Homo sapiens: one gene and its partner. The protein of the gene in region 2 purifies or fractionates together with the protein of the main gene of each other region. This does not show direct contact. Each region holds a gene or a part of one and is shown on either strand. Other genes may lie near its edges.

Region 1 (9,528 bases), on a different chromosome or scaffold from region 2:
AACCTGAAAGCACTTAGCCTGAGTGCTTTTCAGGCTCTCAGTAGCAGCAGTGGCACACAGAAAGGACAGAGGCCCCTCATGCTCGCTGTTTGTGGCCAAGACTCTGGAGCACTGATTAGTGATGATCGACACTCTGGATTCCCTCGGCTCTCTAACCAGAAGTCCAAGCATCACAGGGACCTGGCCAGATCCCCCGCCCCACCCAGTCCTTTCCAGTGAACCAGCCCTGGCACCAGAGCAAGGCTGGAAAAGTGGGTGTGAACAAGCCACTTACTTCAGACACCAGAAGGCCTTGAGGGGTAAGCAAGCACCTTGTGCCTTTCAGAGGCAAACCATCATTTTCCTCTGGTCCCTAAGACAAAGGCCTAGCTACTTTCCAAATCCTCCCAGTGGATGAGCAGGACAAAGTGGGAGAAGCTGAGGCCAGGATCTCATCAGTCCATTCATCTCTTGCCAGAGGCCTCCCCTGAATCTAGTGGCAACTTTGCTGCCATTCCACAAGCTGGTGTTGCTTAGAACACCATGGCTGAGGGTCCCATTCACACTTCCTGAATAAAAGAGTCTCAGAGTCTATGCTTTAAATAAACACCTCATATCTGACTGATGTCCTAACAAAGTAGCTCAGACCGTATAGGTTCAACTGTGTCCCCCTCTAATTCATATGTTGATGTCCTAACCCCCATTATCTCAGAATGTGACTATATCTAGAGATAAATTATCCCTTTAAAGGGATAATTCAGTTAAGATGAGGTCATTAGGGTGGGCTCTCATCCAACATGACTGGTGTCCTTATAAGAAGAGCAGATTAGGTCACAGATACATATAGAGGGGTGGCCATGGGAAGTCACAGGCAGAAGATGGCCAAGGGGAGGGGCCTCAGAAGAAACCAACCCTGCCAACATCTTGATCTCTGACTTCTAGCCTCCAAAATTGTAAGAAAATAGGCTGCACATGGTGGTTCACGCCTGTAATCCTAGCACTTTGGGAGGCTGAGGCGGGTGGATCACTTGAGCTCAGGAGTTCGAGACCAGCCTGGGCAACATGGTGAAACCCCGTCTCTACTAAAAATACAAAAAATTAGCCAGGCATGGTGGCATGTGCCTGTAATCCCAGCTACCTGGGAGGCTGAGGCAGGAGAATCGCTTGAACCTGGGAGGTGGAGGTTGCAGTGAGCCGAGATCATGCCTCCAGCCTGGGTGACTAAGTGAGACTGTCTCAAAACAAAACAAAACAAAACAAAATTGTAAGAAAATAAACTTCTGTTATATTGTTATATTATATTGTTGAGCCACCTGGTCTGTTACTTGGTTATGGCAACACTAGCAAACTAATACATAGGCTGAGGGGGCTCTTCAAAATCTTTATCCTCAGTTGCAAACCACCATAGCCTGCCCTGTGGACATTACTGGAGGCCCAGCCAACCACTAGCAAACCTGGACGAAATGAGTCTAGCTCTGGCTATGAAGAGCTGTGTCTCCTTCATTTATTCAAAGGGAGTGGAATAAAATGCAGACAATAAGATCTGGGCCTAAGGAGGCTGAGACAGAGAAAAAGCAACACACGGTTTAGTGCGTCGATGAAGCTGCGTCCAGAAGGACTGCCAGCAGTGACCTGATCAAGACACGTGATCAGCATATGAACGGTGGTTTTAGGGTTGAGGAAGTCAGATCCGTCTTGACTCCTACGGGCATGAGCCCAGGACATTGACCATAAAGTTTACTTCACCTCCTCAAGGTGGTCTCCAGGGGCCGCCAGCTGGCAGTTAGGATGTGCTACTGAGATCGTAACACTTACTTTTGCATCCACTCGAGAAACTTCTTCTTTGTCCTGAGCACAGGCACTGCGTATTTCTCTCCATTCTTAAAATACTTCAACGTAGGAAACTCTGAGATGTGGAATCTTTCTGCCAGGGCCTTGTTGACAGTGGCATCGACAGCTGCAAGGACACCAGAGCTCTGGGATGGGGGAAAGGCCAACCATGCATTACAGCCTCAGATGCGGTGCTGGTGGAACACAGGAGCCCAGACGCTGCCCCCACAACCCATCCTGGACCTGCTGGAATTTAACTGGGGTGGCTAGCCCAGTGGGCTCCCATATCCCAGGGAACAACTGAACATTGGCACGGCCATCATTTCTCATTTATGAGCTGAGATGAGGCTTTTGAATCTGCCCCACCAGCCACGTTGAGTAGATTGGCACCTGTTCCTGTTAGCCAGGGTCCCAGAGAAAAGAGGGAGCAGGCAGAGGTCACCTGGATGGGCACGGGAACATGGGCCAGTAGTCTTTCTGCCCCCTCTAGGATCCCATCTGTCTAAGATGTTCTACTTGGGCACACAGAGGTACTGCTGGCCTCCACGGACCACGGGAGCTGCAGCAGGGCTTGCAGGGGAAAGTCATAATGATTCCACCTGTCAGTGATTCTTTCAAAGAGAACGGTGAGGGGGAAGGAAAGGAAGCTTACATCCGCTTCTCCATGGAGGGCTTCTGCTGCCTTCTCAAACTCCGGCTTCATTTTCTTACAGTGGCCACACCCTGTGGGGAGAGATCAAGAGAAACCATTCTTATGGCACAGAGGCCCTCGGGATGCTCCCCTGCGCCGCCTCTGTAAGGCAGCTCAGTCCCATTCCCAGACACCTGAGAAAAGCAGCAGCAGCACCAGCTCAAAGAAAAGAAATATTTTGCATAATCCACCAGAAGTGGGTTGGGGTAGTGGGAAGGTACCCCAGACACAAAAATAAAACAACTGCATAAATAATACGGGCAACTGGTGTGCCAGGTACTGACCAGTGCCTTACAGCCTCATAACTACCCCACAAAGTAGGAACTGACATTATCTCCATTCTATGGATTAGACAATTGAGGCACCAAGAGGGCAGGTGACTGCCCAAGGCCATATACACAGCCATGGTCACAGAGCTGGGTTGAAAACCCAACCATCTGGTGAGAGGCCCTAGCTGCAGGCAGCGTGTAGGTTGTGGCACCATGCTGTGATCACCATCATCATCTTCTCTGGACAGAAGGCAGTCTGAGGCCTTGAGCTGGGCACAAAAATTCACAGAAGCATAAGTATGGGACATAATTACATTCTAATTGTCCCCATATGACATGATGGGAATTTTTTGGGATAGAAACTGCTCTGTCCTTTTCTTTCTTTTTTTTTTGTTTTGAGATAGAGTCTTGCTCTGTCTCCCAGGCTGGAGTGCAGTGGCGCCATCTCTGCTTACCGCAAGCTCCGCCTCCTGGGTTCATGCCATTCTCCTGCTTCAGCCTCCCACGTAGCTGGGACTACAGGCACCCGCCACCACGCCCGGCTAATTTTTTTTGTACTTTTTCAATAGAGATGGGGTTTCACTGTGTTAGCCAGGATGGTCTCGATCTCCTGACCTCGTGATCCACCCACCTCGGCCTCCCAAAGTGCTGGGATTACAGGCGTGAGCCACCGCGCCCAGCCTGCTCTGTGCTTTTCTTACAGCTGCATGAACACAGTAAGATGTCAGAAATAATAAAATTTGATGCATTAAAAAGAAATTAAGCACTTTGTGTAAATGACAGACCTTGACATTTGTACATTGTTTTCATTTTAATAGAAAGAGTACTTTCTGGCCTCTGATGCTGGAGGGACTGGGAGGTGAGGGGTCTGCAGACTGGCTCAGGATGGAGGCTGCTCAGAAGGTAAGCCTGGCTGTGCGGGGACCATGCATTAACTAGGATCAGCGGATGACAGGTCGTGACTCAACCTTCTCAGGGGTGTGCCACTGTGTGGGAGCTGAGAACGCTATAATTCTACTACTGATTGTTAGGAAAAAGAAAGACAAGAAGAAAGCAAGACAGAAAGTCAAACAGTGTAATCAGAGGAGACCTCCCACTGAGCTACGGAATCGGCTTTCCTGCCTCCAGCTGAGCACCCGGCAGGGGTGAAAGCTCCTGTCTCCTCCTCCAAGGCCATTTCTGCAGAACTCAGCTCCAGGTGAGACATGAACCTGTCTCGTTCTTAATCTCTCCATTTCACTCCTGCCTGTACCTGGCTTCCTCAGCTCATCCTCACCCTGTCCCTCCCAGGGACAAGGGACCCCGGAGTGGCTACTCCCCACTTAACTGATAACAGAAAACCAAACTGATCCTTGAGCTCCCAGGCAGTGTTGTGAAGCTCCTCCTCTGGACAGAGCACTGGAGACATGACTCGGTCAAGGGCACTGACCCTCATGGAATGCAGCCCAGGGAGTGGCTACAGTGCTTAGCCACATCAACATGTCAGCTCTTCCCAGGTGGATCCAAGGAAGAGAGACACTGCTAACCCTCAAGTGGGAGGCTCCACAACAAGAAGAGGAGGAACTGCTGGGTATACAGGCACCTCTGCTGCCATTATCTAGGGAGCTGCCTACTCCTGTTGGGCTATGATGCAGAAGAAAGGGTAGAAAAGGCATCAGCCCTTAGAATCTTCCAGCATAATGACAGAGAGGACCATGGTCTTTGGTCCAGAGGGGAATAGAGTGGCACACATGATGCCTTCAAGGGATGAACCAGAGGAAGAGCACTCCACCTGCCCTGGCAGCCCCAGGGGAGCCGGCAGCTGCTTGTAGCCCTATTACATATTGTACCCACACTACACACTCATCATGCTGGGCTCTAGGTACCAGACAGTGCCTCTCTTTTTTTTTTTTTTTTTTGAGATGGAGTCTCGCTCTGTCACCCAGGCTGGAGTACAGTGGCACACGATGTCAGCTCACTGCAACCTCCGCCTCCTGGGTTCAAGTGATTCCCCTGCCTCAGCCTCCCGAGTAGCTGGGACTACAGGCATGTGCCACCACGCCCAGCTAATTTTTTGTATTTTTAGTAGAGATGGGGTTTCACTGTGTTAGCCAGGATGGTCTCGATCTCCTGACCTGTGATCCACCCACCTTGGCCTCCCAAAGTGCTGAGATTACAGGTGTGAGCCACCATGCCCAGCCCCAGATGGTGACTCTCTAAAGGTGGGACCTGAGGTTTTTTTTTACCTTGTACCTCCCCATGAAGCAAAAGGATCACCATTTAATAGATACATGATAAATATTTACTGGTCAGCAATGAAGAGACCTAATTAAATAATTAGTAGACAACTCCTGGGTTGACCAGGGGCTTGAGAAGACCTCCTGGAGGTGGCAGATGAAAGGACACATGTGGGCAAGTTAGAGACAGAGGACAGAGGACCCAGTCAGGAGGGCAGGGGCAGCCTCAGAGAAATGAGGACGTCCCCATGCTCAATTCAGCAGTGCAGAATTCCGCTGCCAGGGCTGAGCAAGGCACATAGCCCCAAAAGTGCTCCTAAGGGCTCCTCTGGGACTGCTGAGCTCGGCCCCCCCAGAGGCTGCCCCTGGGCTGGGCAAGACAGCCTGGCTGTTCCTGGCCTTGTTCTCCACAGCAGATATTCTTAATGTCCCCTGCAGTCAGACATTGTGGAGATCATGATCAAAGTGGTAAACCCTTCTTCCAGAAAAATGCACATAGGGTTAGATGACTTTGGGAGTTCACGGTCTGACTAGACCCCACTTGGGATCCCCCCATCATAAGCTGTAGAGGTATCAAGGTCATCATTATTTTGAATGACAAGAATATCACTTTCCAGAAATGAACATTTAGCATCATCATGAGCCATGTGTTACCTAAATAATCCAGTCACAAAAGGGTTGTTTTGGTAAGTTGGCTGTTTGTTTTCCCCTCAGAAACAATTTTACACACCGATTACATGCAGATTCCCAGGGGCAACCGCAAAAGCCCATTTAATAGGATGCACCTGAAACATAAAAGCACGCAGTGCTATTTGTATTTCCCTGAGCCTGCTCCCAATGGGACAAGTGCAGCCCGCGATCCAGTGGGGACAGCAGGCAGGCCGCTCCCTCTAGGCAGCGACCCCCACCTCAGCAGTGAGAGGAAGAACTCCAAGAGGGACCAGGGAGAGCTGGGGCAGGAGTCTGTGCCTCCCAGGCACTGACATTCTTGAGATTGTCACAAAAGCCTCTCCTCCCCTTCCCCACACTGATGCATATACTCCACATGTATGTACAATTCCAGAGGGATCCTGGACTACCTGAACTTGCTCACAGAACTGGGGTTAGGAGCCCAGGACAAAGGAGACCACCGGACTCCAAGCCAATCACTGTCCAATGGGAGGCAAAGCGGAAGAACACGGAGAGCTGATGCACAGGGGCCCAGGCTTAGATGTCTTTCCACACTGGCCCACATGTCAGGAGTAAATGGAATAATCTGCAGAAGGTTCTACTGACTTAATATGAGGTATATTAAGATTAAAAAATTATTTTTTTGCTTCTCACTAAAATAGAGTGGAGTAAACCATCCTTTGGGGCCACGGTCAGGATGAAAAAGTTCTACAGCTCTTAAAGGGATCTCCCTGCCCCGGGGGCAACCCCAAGCTGCTGCTCCCTGCACCTGTCCAAGGTGAGCCCCCCACTCTCCTGCTTTCAGGCTGACCTCCCCTGACTGGGGCAGAGTGAGGGGGCTCACCCTGCATGAACAAACTGCAGGAGAAGGAAGCTCAGAGACTCTCCTGTGGCGGTGAGTCTATCGCCCGAGAGTTCAACCTGCTCTGGAGAGATGTGAGTGGTCCATGCAAAGTCCCCAAAGGTCCACTGCCCTGAGACAGACTGACTCAGCCCAGCAGCACATAGTGGAGGACACACTGGGAGGCCTCGGGAAATGCAGGCATGAGGCCCTGGGTGGCCTCCAGGGAGGTGGGAGAGGCAGGAAAGAGAGGCTCCCTTGACCACTCTCCCCATACCCTCCATGATATGGATGGTGCTGTTAGGCCAGCTGCTGGCAGGGCCCATGGTCAAGATGGACAGTGGGACTGGAGTAGGAATCAGGGGAGGGAAGACAAAGAAAAGCCAGCCATTGCCATTCACTGAGAATCACTGTTGCTTTCTAAAGTGACCCTGTTGATGTGGCAGGACTCCTGAAGATGAGAATTCACTGTGTGCTGGTAGGGAGGTTTACTTCATCCCTTTATCAGGCTCCAGGCCTTTGATGCCACTGCCCTGCCAGGGTGGCAAGTGGGTTTCATTCCACCTGCCAGCTTCCATCAGCGGTGGGCCTGAGACAGAGGCTGAGTCTGAGAACTCGCTCACTGGGAAGAGGAGCTGTGACCAACTTGCAACGTCTGCCACAGGCATGGGAAGCCAGCTGGGGTCAATACCAGGAGACCTCCAGTTTCCGCAGCTCGCACACATGGCTGTCTCCTGGGCTTTGGCCTCAGCTCCCAGAATTCCCCACCTCTATAAGGAAAGCACTCGCTGTCTGTGCTGGGCTTCCACACTCTATCGCAGCAGCCCCACCAGACACATGACACAGCTCAGTAGGTCCGTTTTACAGTGCCAGAAATTGTAGCTCTGGAAGACGAAGTGACAAATCCCCCAGGGCCATCACCACCTGCCACCTCTTCCTCCCAGCCCCTGCTCTGATGGATAGGCAACATCCACCCTGGACAACCCCTCGCAATCCTACCTTTGTTCTGGCCCCTGCTTTGAGTCTTCCCAGTTCACTGTAGCCCCATCGAATGATCTGTCTCTCTTCTAATTACAAAATACTTCTTATTCAGATATTTCTATGGCATTTAATTTTGTGTTGCTTTGTGACTGTGATATTGCTGTCTTCTGATATTTAAGGGCAGCCGGGGTATATTTTCAAAACATCAATCAGATCAGATCCCTTTGCTTAAAACTTTACAGTGGCTTCCTATCACAGGTAGATTCAAATCCAAACTTATTATGGCTACAGACCCCACACAAGCTGAGTCCTGCCTACCTTCAACCTCAACTCAGGTCACTTCTACTGCAGCCTCTGGCTCTCCTCTTCTCCCAACACACCAAGTTCATTTCTACCCCAGGGCCCTGGAACATGTTCTTTCCTACCCACCTGGAGCATACATACCAACATCTTCCCCCAGGTCTGTATGCGGCTTACCCCTCTTTACATCAGCCACTCAGGCTTCCACTCAAATTTCACCTTCTAGGAGACCCTCCCTGACCACCTATCCCAAAGGCGCCTCATGCTATCATGCCCTCTCCCAATATCCTGTTTTATTTTCTCAATTGTACTCAAAGCAGCTGGAGTAATCTGCTCACTTGTTCCCTGCCCATCCCCTCAACTGGAATGGAGGCTCTGTATGTGCAGGCAGGGGCTCGGCTGTCTTGTCTAATTGGCCACCATATTCCTGATACTGACCACGCTGCTCCACACGCTTTCTGAATGAATTAGCCTCATGACTTGTTAGGTTGTTAGGTTTACACCTGTACACACAAGGTTTGGCAGGACTAAATTCTTTATGGGCAAGGGTCATGGCTTGCACTCAAATAGTCGTTAATTTGACTAAACACCTCTAATTAGTAGAACTGGCAACCAAGCCAGTTACTATGCACATCCCCTCTCCTCTCCTCCCCACTACCATCTTTGCGCCTCCTCTGCACCTCACTAGGAGAAAAGTGTCTCCCAAAATCTCTAACATCTAAGGATGCTGTTCTAAAGTTTCCCATACATACCCTAGAATTCTCTTGATATTGTTAAGGTTTTCAATTCTAGCATCAATTCCCTCTGACCCTGAATAAGACACTAAGGCTAAGCAATAAACTTCTGCAAACAGAGTTTAAGATGAGGAGCCTGGCCAGGCCCAGAGGAGGAGAAAGGTCTGGCTGAGAAAACACCTCCCTTCCAGACACCCTCCTGTCTTGGGGAGCCGTGGGTGATGGATAGAGCTGGCGGTGACCTGAGGACCAGCCTCCTGGGCCTGGCCTTCATGATGTCCCTGGCTGTGGGACAGTTGGAGGAGGAGGGTTACATGCAGGGAGCGGGACTCCGGCCCACTGCATTTTGTGTCCTGATTGTGATTTGAGAGGCCATTAAGTTTTATTGCTAAACTTCCTTGTTGGGCTTTTATCATCTGTGTAAGTGCACTTACTCCGATTTCCGTGATCTGGCATAGAGGTCTGCACATCAACTCCTTGATCATGCTCTTTTCTGGCTGTGGGAATGTTGGCTTCCTGTCAACCCAAAGCCCTCGGATTCGTCTGGATTTCATTAAATTCAATTATACTTATGATTTTACTACAGGCCAGCTATAGGGCTTTCCTGGATGCTGGAACCAGAATTTCCCAGAGGACCAGATTAATCTGTAAAGCTCCCTGGTAGCCAGGGTACTGGGGTAGTACTTGGGCCTCTAGAAGAGCCTGGTTCCTGCCTTGCTTGGAATTTGGCTTGGGGCATGCCAGGGAGGGAGGGTTTCCTACAAATGCCAGCAGAAATACGGGCGTGGAGGGGCCTACAGAGACCTCAGAGCTCTTTTAAGGCTTCCAAACGCATAAGCACCAAAGTGGACTCCTTGACAGTTACAGGCATCTTGGGGCAGACTCACACACTCACAGATGCCTCTATTCATCACATGACCCCTCTTCTTATGCAAAGAGTTTGTTTTTTCCTTTATGTTAGCACAAAATGTGGATAAACAAGCTTTTAAAATTTTACTTCTAGGTTCCTATCCTAAGG
Region 2 (9,333 bases):
TTGTCTAAACAATGGACAACCGCCCCATAGCCCATAAGAAATACCATTTTTATGTTGCTCATAGTTATTTTTTATTTGAAAGAAAATAAACTGATTAGAGATAAAGGGGATATCGTAGGCAAGGTAAGTAGTTGGATGAAATCACAGGAAGCATGAATAGTTGTGACCAATTGCAGAAGACTCAAGCTGATTCCATCTCAGGGACACACTCTACCATTCGGGAGATCCCCAACCCATTTGGGTAAAACTGCAAGAGAAAAAAATATTGTCAAGGGGCTTCGACAAAGGATGAAGAATGTGGATTTATTCTTCAGAATCTGAAGGAACTAACAAGTGTCAAATGTCAACTAAACTCAGGGGATTCGAAAGGAACATGGGATTGTTATTACGGGAAGATAAACAACCAATTTCTGTCCTTAAAGATTTTGGAAATATAGCCTTAGACGGAAGCCCAGGTAGGTTGGAACTTTAGAGAGAACTAGAAGAAAGTCAATACGTATGAGTTTTCCTATAATATGGCACAGAGATCCAGCCTTCTTCTGGTAAGAGAGAAAAGCCATTTTCTCACTCACAGTCTACTTTACAGATTATTGACAGAGTTCCAAGCACTGATTCAGACATGAAAAAGTATAAAGCAATATCTGAAGAAAATTTCTTAGGGACTTTGATTGTATGGGTGTAATTTGAATCCTTTTTCTTTCTGCCCGTGTGCTCAAAGGAAAGTTTCTCATTGTAACTCTCCATTTGTTTGAGTGCAATTTCCTTTTTCTTTCTGCCTGTGTGCTCAAAGGAAAGTTTCTCATTGCAACTCTTCCATTTCCTCATCTTTAAAATGTTTACTTCATAGAATGACTGTGATATTTAAATTATAATACATATGTAAATTTTATGACACAGTTCCTGGCATATGTTCCGATTGAATAAATGTTGTAATCAATACTATGTGAAAGTTAAAGGTCAAGAAAAAGTGAACCCAGAATAGGAGGAATGTACATTGATCCTCAGTGAATGTCCAAAACCCCAGAAATACCCTGAATGGCACTCAAAATAATCTGCCTCAAGAAAGATTGTAAAATCATTCATTGTTAAGCTATTTTCTATTTTGGGAAAATTCTCTAAAGGAAACAAAGATTTTACTTGATTACCTGATTTTTAAATTGCCTGATTTAAACACACACACACACACACACACACACACACACACACACTACCTGATTTAAAAAAATAATAATAATAAGCAGTTACCTAGCTTCATGGAGACACTTATTTTGGTCTTTCCAATGATGTTTCTACTAAGGAAGAGTTTTCCTTAATAAATGTCAATATTTCAAGATCCATTCAGGTAATATTGGTAACCTAGGAGTCAGGTAACCTCCTGACTCCTCTGATATTTATCTGTTGACTTGACTTAGAAACTACAAGGATTTAGAGAACAATGTAAAGAAGAGGTCTCCCTGACCTCAAAAATAGAGTCTCTGTGAGAATAGAGAACCCAAGGAATCAAGGAGCCACATAAAGGAAGCACACAGATGGAGGAGTCTTGCTACCTGGAATGTCTTTACGAGCAGTGGTAGAAGCAGCGGTGGTTGCAGTGGTAGGAGCAGCAGTGGTTGCAGTGGTTGCAGCAGCAGTGGTTTCAGCATCAGGGGCTTCATCATCAGCAGGACCAGCTGAAATTAGAAGGAAAAGCTCTAGGTGAGACTGACTCCTTCTGGAACAAAATTTATCCCACCCAGGGGTAGACATACATTCCTCATCCTGAATTCATCTCTGCAAATCTGTCATCAGTTCTGTCTTACCTTTAGCCTACCTGCCTACTTTCCTTGTGCTTCATCCTTCCCTGTCTTGTCTTTGCTGGGACAGAAAGAATTTGGGGTTTCCCTCCAAGGGCAATGACACTGATTAAAGAGACAAGCAAGTACTTTGTCCCAGGTATGAGCACAAAAGACCAAGGCCACGAGTGTTCCTATTCACAGGGACTACTGCTCAGAAGCAATAAGGAAATCTCTAGTAGCCTGACATTCTGAAGCCGTCCCACAGAATAACCTAAGACAGCATACATTCCAATGTAGCATGAATGAGGATGAGTAAAGGGATGAACTCTAGAGGGAAGGAGGAGGCAGACTAAGAAGACGTATCTCATCTTAGAGTCATATCTCCTGTCTTAGAGTGCAGTAAGATATCTTCTATCAGGTTCTAGAATGAAAAGAGCCATATTTGTCTCACCCTCTGTGGCAGCTTGGACTCTGTTTATTAGAGAGGTAATTGTGAGAGCCACATTAGATATAACAGGAGAAATTAATACACTTCTGATAGTAAAAAAATTCCCCATTAATTACTATATGTACAAAGGGGACTGGGTAAGAGTTTTGAAAATTATCTCTCTCTCTCTAGACCTTACACAAGAGCTATTGATAAGGATCAAGAGTCAGGCCCCACATTTGTGAGTTAGACTCACCTCAGCAAATAAGTAGCTCCACCTCCAAACCCACACTCTATCCATGCTGTCTCAGGCTTTATTTAAGAGAGAAAATATTTTTTAAATGGGGCCTCACATGGCAGGAAAAATATATGTGAGGTCTGACTAAAGCTAATGCCCTTGTGACCAAAGGATGCAAATTCCCAAGATGCGAAGGATAAAGACAGACCCCCTTAACTTGTGCATGGGCACAACACACACACAGTACAGAATGTGAAGAACACTTTGGGAGAAGCCCAAGAATGACTAAAGGCTTTGGTCTACCACCTTCGTTTTCAGGTTAGAGAAGGGAAACAAACATCAGCCTGGGAATAAGGAATATAGACCATTACAAAGAGTAAAGCTTAGAACTGACCCCTGCACTCCACATCCCACACACCACCCTCACTTGTGATCCAAATGGACTTATTTTCATATCACTTCAAATTCTGAGACCCACTGGTCTCTTTTTGACACTGGCTATATATTCAGTCCTTCCATTTATTAGAGGCATCTCTCAAAAATTCTCAGGCTACAACATCAGACCTCATGCTCTTGTGCCTTATGCTGGAAAACAATGAATAATAAGTCCACATTTGTATAAGTCTATGGCCTAGATTTCATATATTCTAAGAATGTATAAGAAATAAGCAGATTCACTATGTTTGTGGTGAATTTTAAAATCAGGAATATAGCTTTCACAGACTTTTGCTTAGGATTCCTTATAACAAAGACTATCCACATGGAAACTGGCTGTTTGACATGAGGCTGGAAGTGAAAAATGGTTATTGCTGGAAAGAGATGACATTCAAGTGCAGACTCACTAGCTGGATACGTGTCAGCTGGAGCAGCTGTTGTCGGATTCTCTGAAAGAGAAGAAGGAAAAATTAAGATGTTAGCTGAATACCAGTTTGGAGGATGGAGGTAAGAGAGAATATGGACAATATTCCAGACTTTACAATGGAAGACCCTCAGTCCTTGGTGTACCAGTTGAGGAAGAACAAGTGCACAGATAAGATAAAACCCATGAAAACCAATAAAAACCTAATATGTGGTCATTTTTCCTTTCCCGAAATAAACCTCTGATTACCTTCTTGAACATATTTTACTAACAGTAACAATAAACTTGGGTTCCAAGGTATTATTGAAGTAAGATCTGACTGAATTAAGAAGAGCCTAAGGATAACCATCTCCATCTTGAACGGTCAGTCAAAATGGTGATAGAACAAGTTAGGAGAGGTAAAAAAGCACATTCTAAGCAACCATAAGCCCACATCTTTAGAGGAGATATTTTATGTATATTCCCACAAAACTTATGTTCAGGTAAGAATCTTTACTTACGGGCAGAGACCAGAAAGATGGAAACTCCCAAGAGTACCAGGACTGCTAAGAACTTCATGGTGGTGACCTGAAGATCAGGGAGCACAGACAAAAATGCTTCAAAGCCTAAGAGAAGGCAAGGCGCTGACTTCAGGATTCCACATCCTGACAATATATATGCAGAGGGCACCAATCAGGAGCTGTCAACCAGAATCCAGGTTAGGTAATGCCAGGAAACGTTGGGACACAAACCACTGGAGAATCAACAACACAGCCAGGGGCCCTTTGGAAAGGTTGTGAATTCAAATCATTGGTTCTGGCTAAACAGGTTTCAATTCGAGTCTCTCATGTTAAATATGCTCCAGGCAACTTCTCTTCCAGGCATCCTCTTACATGTAGGGTATAGTGTCTCCATAATTACCAGCTCCTATGACAGGTTGGAGATGCCCCATAACCAGCCTTCCTGAAATCTGCAGTGCTCTTTTCATAGATTCTAGGAGTCATACACTTACAGAGTGCTTAGACCTCTGTCTCCCCCTAGGGGAATAATCAGGGTAGAGCAGCCTGATCCAAAGACCATCCGGTGTAACTCAGGCTGTGCATTCTTCGAGTCATGGCCTCCCTCCTGAACATGTAATTAGGTCATCTGACACTGGTGCAGAGTGAGTCCAACACTGAATGATCTAAAGAACGAACTATGACCTTACTGGATTTAGCAACCATTGTATAAAAATTCAAAATCAAGGAGTAAGTATACAGAATAAACTAACATTTGTTAATTCATGCATCCATTTAATCAATTTTTTCATTCAAAAAACATTCATTGAGCATTATTGTATGCCAGACACAATGCTAGATGTTAGAAAAATAACAGCGAACAAAGCACACAAAAATTTTATTTAATACATGGTTTTGCAGGAATTCATACACTAAAAAAGTAAAGAAAGAGAAAACACAATGTATTATGTGTGAGGTGATAAGGCCTAATAAAAAAAGAAGGCAGGAAAGAAGAAAGGAGAGTTTAGAGATGGAAAATGGGGAGCAATTTTATATAAGGTGACCAAAAAAGGCATTACTGAATAGGTGATATTTGAACAGACTCTTAAGGAGCTGAGGAATCAACAACGTGGTATATTTGGATAATGCAACGGAAAGGAAATGGTCAGTCTGAAGGAAAGCAATGGTGAGTGCATGTAGAATATGGTCATCCAGACTTCTCTGCAGTTGTTGAGTAGGGCCCAGCACTGCCCCAAGTTCCATCAATCTACTTGCCCTTTGTCATAATGGAGCCAAGCTGCTAAGTAAAGACAGCAAGGGAGGAAAACAATCCACATTTACAGCACAATCAAGTGCTGGACCCAACTGAGGCCTCAAAGAGGGGTGATGAACATTTGGAATACCCAGAATCATAGGGAATTCTCTACATTTTAAAGATTTCCCTTGCTTTAAAGTTCTTCTTCTTCATACAAAGTATGCCTTTTTGGGTCATACCCTCATTGGAAGGATCTCTGTAATCTGGAAGAGCACTGAACATCTATTTCTCCTTTTATTGGAGAGTCTGTCTGATAACAGCAACCAGTCTACTCCCCAAAACATGCTAAGAGGTCCCCATCAGGTGAATGAAGAAAGGCAGAGGAAATTCTTGAGGGAGTGGTCTTCAACCTCGGAAAGACAAGTCAGTGTCCTTGTCCTGGGTAAACTCATATCTTCCATGAGGCACAGAGTTGTCATAATATGGTGAGAGATTAGCATAAATAACGCTAAGAAAAAAACACATATTCTGAAGGAAAAGTGAAAGAGAAATATTTAAAAGAGATAAAGAAGGAAGGAAGACTTAAAAGACAGATACTATCTGATTATACCCCGTAGGGAATAAGCCCTACAGTCACCTTTGTAAGGCCTCCCAACAACACTGACACAAATTGAAGGGTCTTCTAGGAGACGGTTACTTATTGAGAGCCCACTGTGTCCCTCCACAGAGGCAGAGACCCACCACACAGACTTAAGACAATGACTGGCTTGCTAAGAAAAAAAGATTAAACATATGTATCAGTTAGGGTCCCCTTAAGAGATCAAAACTGCACAGTGGATTAAACAGGAAAAGTGTGATACAAAGAATTTCTAAAGTTTGATATATGAGTAGTTTTTCATCTTGAATGAATTTTTGTATAAGGTGTAAGGAAGGGATCCAGTTTCAGCTTTCTACATATGGCTAGCCAGATTTCCCAGCACCATTTATTAAATAGGGAATCCTTTCCCCATTGCTTGTTTTCGTCAGGTTTCTCAAAGATCAGATGGTTGTAGATGTGTGGCATTATTTCTGAGGGCTCTGTTCTGTTCCATTGGTCTATAACTCTGTTTTGGTACCAGTACCATGCTGTTTTGGTTATTGTAGCCTTGTAGTATAGTTTGAAGTCAGGTAGTGTGATGCCTCCAGCTTTGTTCTTTTGGCTTAGGATTGACTTGGCAATGTGGGCTCTTTTTTGCTTCCATATGAACTTTAAAGTAGTTTTTTCCAATTCTGTGAAGAAAGTCATTGGTAGCTTGATGGGGATGGCATTGAATCTATAAATTACCTTGGGCAGTATGGCCATTTTCACAATATTGATTCTTCCAACCCATGAGCATGGAATGTTCTTCCATTTGTTTGTATCCTCTTTTATTTCATTGAGCAGTGATTTGTAGTTCTCTTTGGAGAGGTCCTTCACATCCCTTGTAAGTTGGATTCCTAGGTATTTTATTCTCTTTGAAGCAATTGGGAATGGGAGTTCAGTCATGATTTGGCTCTCTGTCTGTTATTGGTGTATAAGAATGCTTGTGATTTTTGCACATTGATTTTTGTATCCTGAGACTTTGCTGAAGTTGCTTATCAGCTTAAGGAGATTTGGGGCTGAGACGATGGGGTTTTCTAGATATACAATCATGTCATCTGCAAACAAGGACAATTTGACTTCCTCTTTTCCTAATTGAATACCCTTTATTTCCTTCTCCTGCCTGATCGCCCTGGCCAGAACTTCCAACACTACGTTGAATAGGAGTGGTGAGAGAGGGCATCCCTGTCTTGTGCCAGTTTTCAAAGGGAATGCTTCCAGTTTTTGCCCATTCAGTATGATATTGGCTGTGGGTTTGTCGTAGATAGCTCTAATTATTTTGAGATACGTCCCATCAATACCTAATTTATTGAGAGTTTTTAGCACGAAGGGTTGTTGAATTTTGTCAAAGGCCTTTTCTGCATCTATTGAGATAATCATGTGGTTTTTGTCTTTGGTTCTGTTTATATGCTGGATTACGTGTATTGATTTGCATATGTTAACCAGCCTTGCATCCCAGAGATTAATTTAAGATGATTTAAAGACTTACATGTTAGACCTAAAACCATAAAAATCCTAGAAGAAAACCTAGGCAATACCATTCAGGACATAGGCATGGGCAAGGACTTCATGTCTAAAACACCAAAAGCAATGGCAACAAAACCAAAATTGACAAATGGGTTGTAATTAAACTAAAGAGCTTCTGCACAGCAAAAGAAACTACCATCAGAGTGAACAGGCAACCTACAGAATAGGAGAAAATTTTTGCAATCTCTCCATCTGACAAAGGGCTAATATCCAGAATCTACAATGAATTCAAACAAATTTACAAGAAAAAAACAAACAACCCCATCAACAAGTGGGTAAAGGATATGAACAGACACTTCTCAAAAGAAGACATTTATGCAGCCAAAAAACGCATGAAAAAATGCTCACCATCACTGGCCATCAGAGAAATGCAAATCAAAACCACAGTGAGATACCATCTCACACCAGTTAGAATGGCAATCATTAAAAAGTCAGGAAACAACAGGTACTGGAGAGGATGTGGAGAAATAGGAACACTTTTACACTGTTGTTGGGACTGTAAACTAGTTCAACCCTTGTGGAAGTCAGTGTGGCAATTCCTCAAGGATCTAGAACTAGAAATACCATTTGACCCAGCCATCCCATTACTGGGCATATACCCAAAGGATTATAAATCATGCTGCTAAAAAGACACATGCACACGTATGTTTATTGCAGCACTATTCACAATAGCAAAGACTTGGAACCAACCCAAATGTACAACAATGATAGACTGGATTAAGAAAATGTGGCACATATACACCATGGAATACTATGTAGCCATAAAAAATGATGAGTTCATGTCCTTTGTAGGGACATGGATGAAGCTGGAAACCATCATTCTCAGCCAACCATCGCAAGGACAAAAAACCAAACACCGTGTGTTCTCACTCATAGGTGGCAACTGAACAATGAGAACACGTGGACACAGGAAGGGGAACATCACACACCGGGGCCTGTGGTGGGGTGGGGGGAGGGGGGAGGGATAGCATTAGGAGATATACCTAATGTAAATGACGAGTTAATGGGTGCAGCACCCCAACATGGCACATGTATACATATGTAACAAACCTGCACGTTGTGCACATGTACCCAAAACTTAAAGTGTAATAATAAAAAAAAATGAGTAGTTATAAGGAAGTTCTATGAAACCCTAGGGTTGAGGGAGACTATCCAAGGAAGGACAACAATAAAGAGCCCTCCTCCCTGAAGCTGATATTCAGAACTCATTGGAGAAGCAGCCCTCTGGGTGGCAGAGAACAGTGCTGGTTTGCCCAAGCTGAAGCTGGTCTGCAGTTGCTGGGAAAGCAGACAATCTGCAACCAGTGGCCTGAGTGTGCAGAGGACATGAAGGCTCAGGGTGTAGGGGAGCCCCGTGGGGCCTACAACAGTTTTGAGGCTTTATTTTTCTGAAGTTATTGGATTTTGATAATATTATAATGCTTCAAATTGTAGGTTTTTAATATTATCACTTTAAGAGGGATCTAAAATTCAAGCATAAAGTATCATATGTGAGTATATAAAATATACTCAGATCTAACACCAAATTTGTTCATTAAAATGAACAGCATTATATATAGGGCATGTTATATTAAAATTAAACTGAGATCTTTCTAATATCTACATTTTGTAACATCTGTCAAATATTATGCAATATATTCTATATAAAATCATATATTGTATGTATAACCAAACTTTATCTCTCTATATATGTATACACTATATACTAGTGGATATGTAATTTTAAGAGTGAAATTCAATGGATGACATAGCTCCAAAACTTTTTACTACTGCTCTTTCCCATTACAAGATTATTTTTGTATTTTTTATAAAAATTAAAATAGAAGTATACATAAGAAAGTAAAAGTCTCTAGATGGGCCAAAACAATGAGATAACTGCCATTTTTACTTGGTAATTATATATTTGTGAAAATTTTATGCATATATGAACTTATATGTAGTTATTTATTCCTACTCCTTTATGGCTAATATTTCATACACTGCTATCATCAATACCAAAAAGCAAATGTTAAATAAATTTCCCCATATTCCTATTATAATAGGCAAATATATGTAGATGCAAGTGACCATATATTTGTGTTTGTACACAAATTCTTTTAAAATGCTGTACAAAATGGCCTTAAATTATAAACCATTCTTTCTTCTTTTTGCACTCAA

What was found.
Region 1: the proteins of MUCL1 (region 2) and PDIA5 purify together in Homo sapiens (co-immunoprecipitation; 3 studies listed by BioGRID and IntAct, with this or other methods). This does not show direct contact.

What each region holds. Positions count from the first base shown.
Region 1 is NC_000003.12:123,138,526-123,148,053, reverse strand, and holds part of PDIA5 (protein disulfide-isomerase A5 precursor), read right to left. Parts: intron 2,533-9,528; coding exon 2,462-2,532; intron 1,956-2,461; coding exon 1,795-1,955; intron 1-1,794.
Region 2 is NC_000012.12:54,849,107-54,858,439, reverse strand, and holds MUCL1 (mucin-like protein 1 precursor), read right to left. Parts: upstream 3,925-9,333; 5' UTR 3,858-3,924; coding exon 3,800-3,857; intron 3,325-3,799; coding exon 3,283-3,324; intron 1,671-3,282; coding exon 1,548-1,670; intron 248-1,547; coding exon 198-247; 3' UTR 53-197; downstream 1-52. UniProt on the Homo sapiens protein: May play a role as marker for the diagnosis of metastatic breast cancer.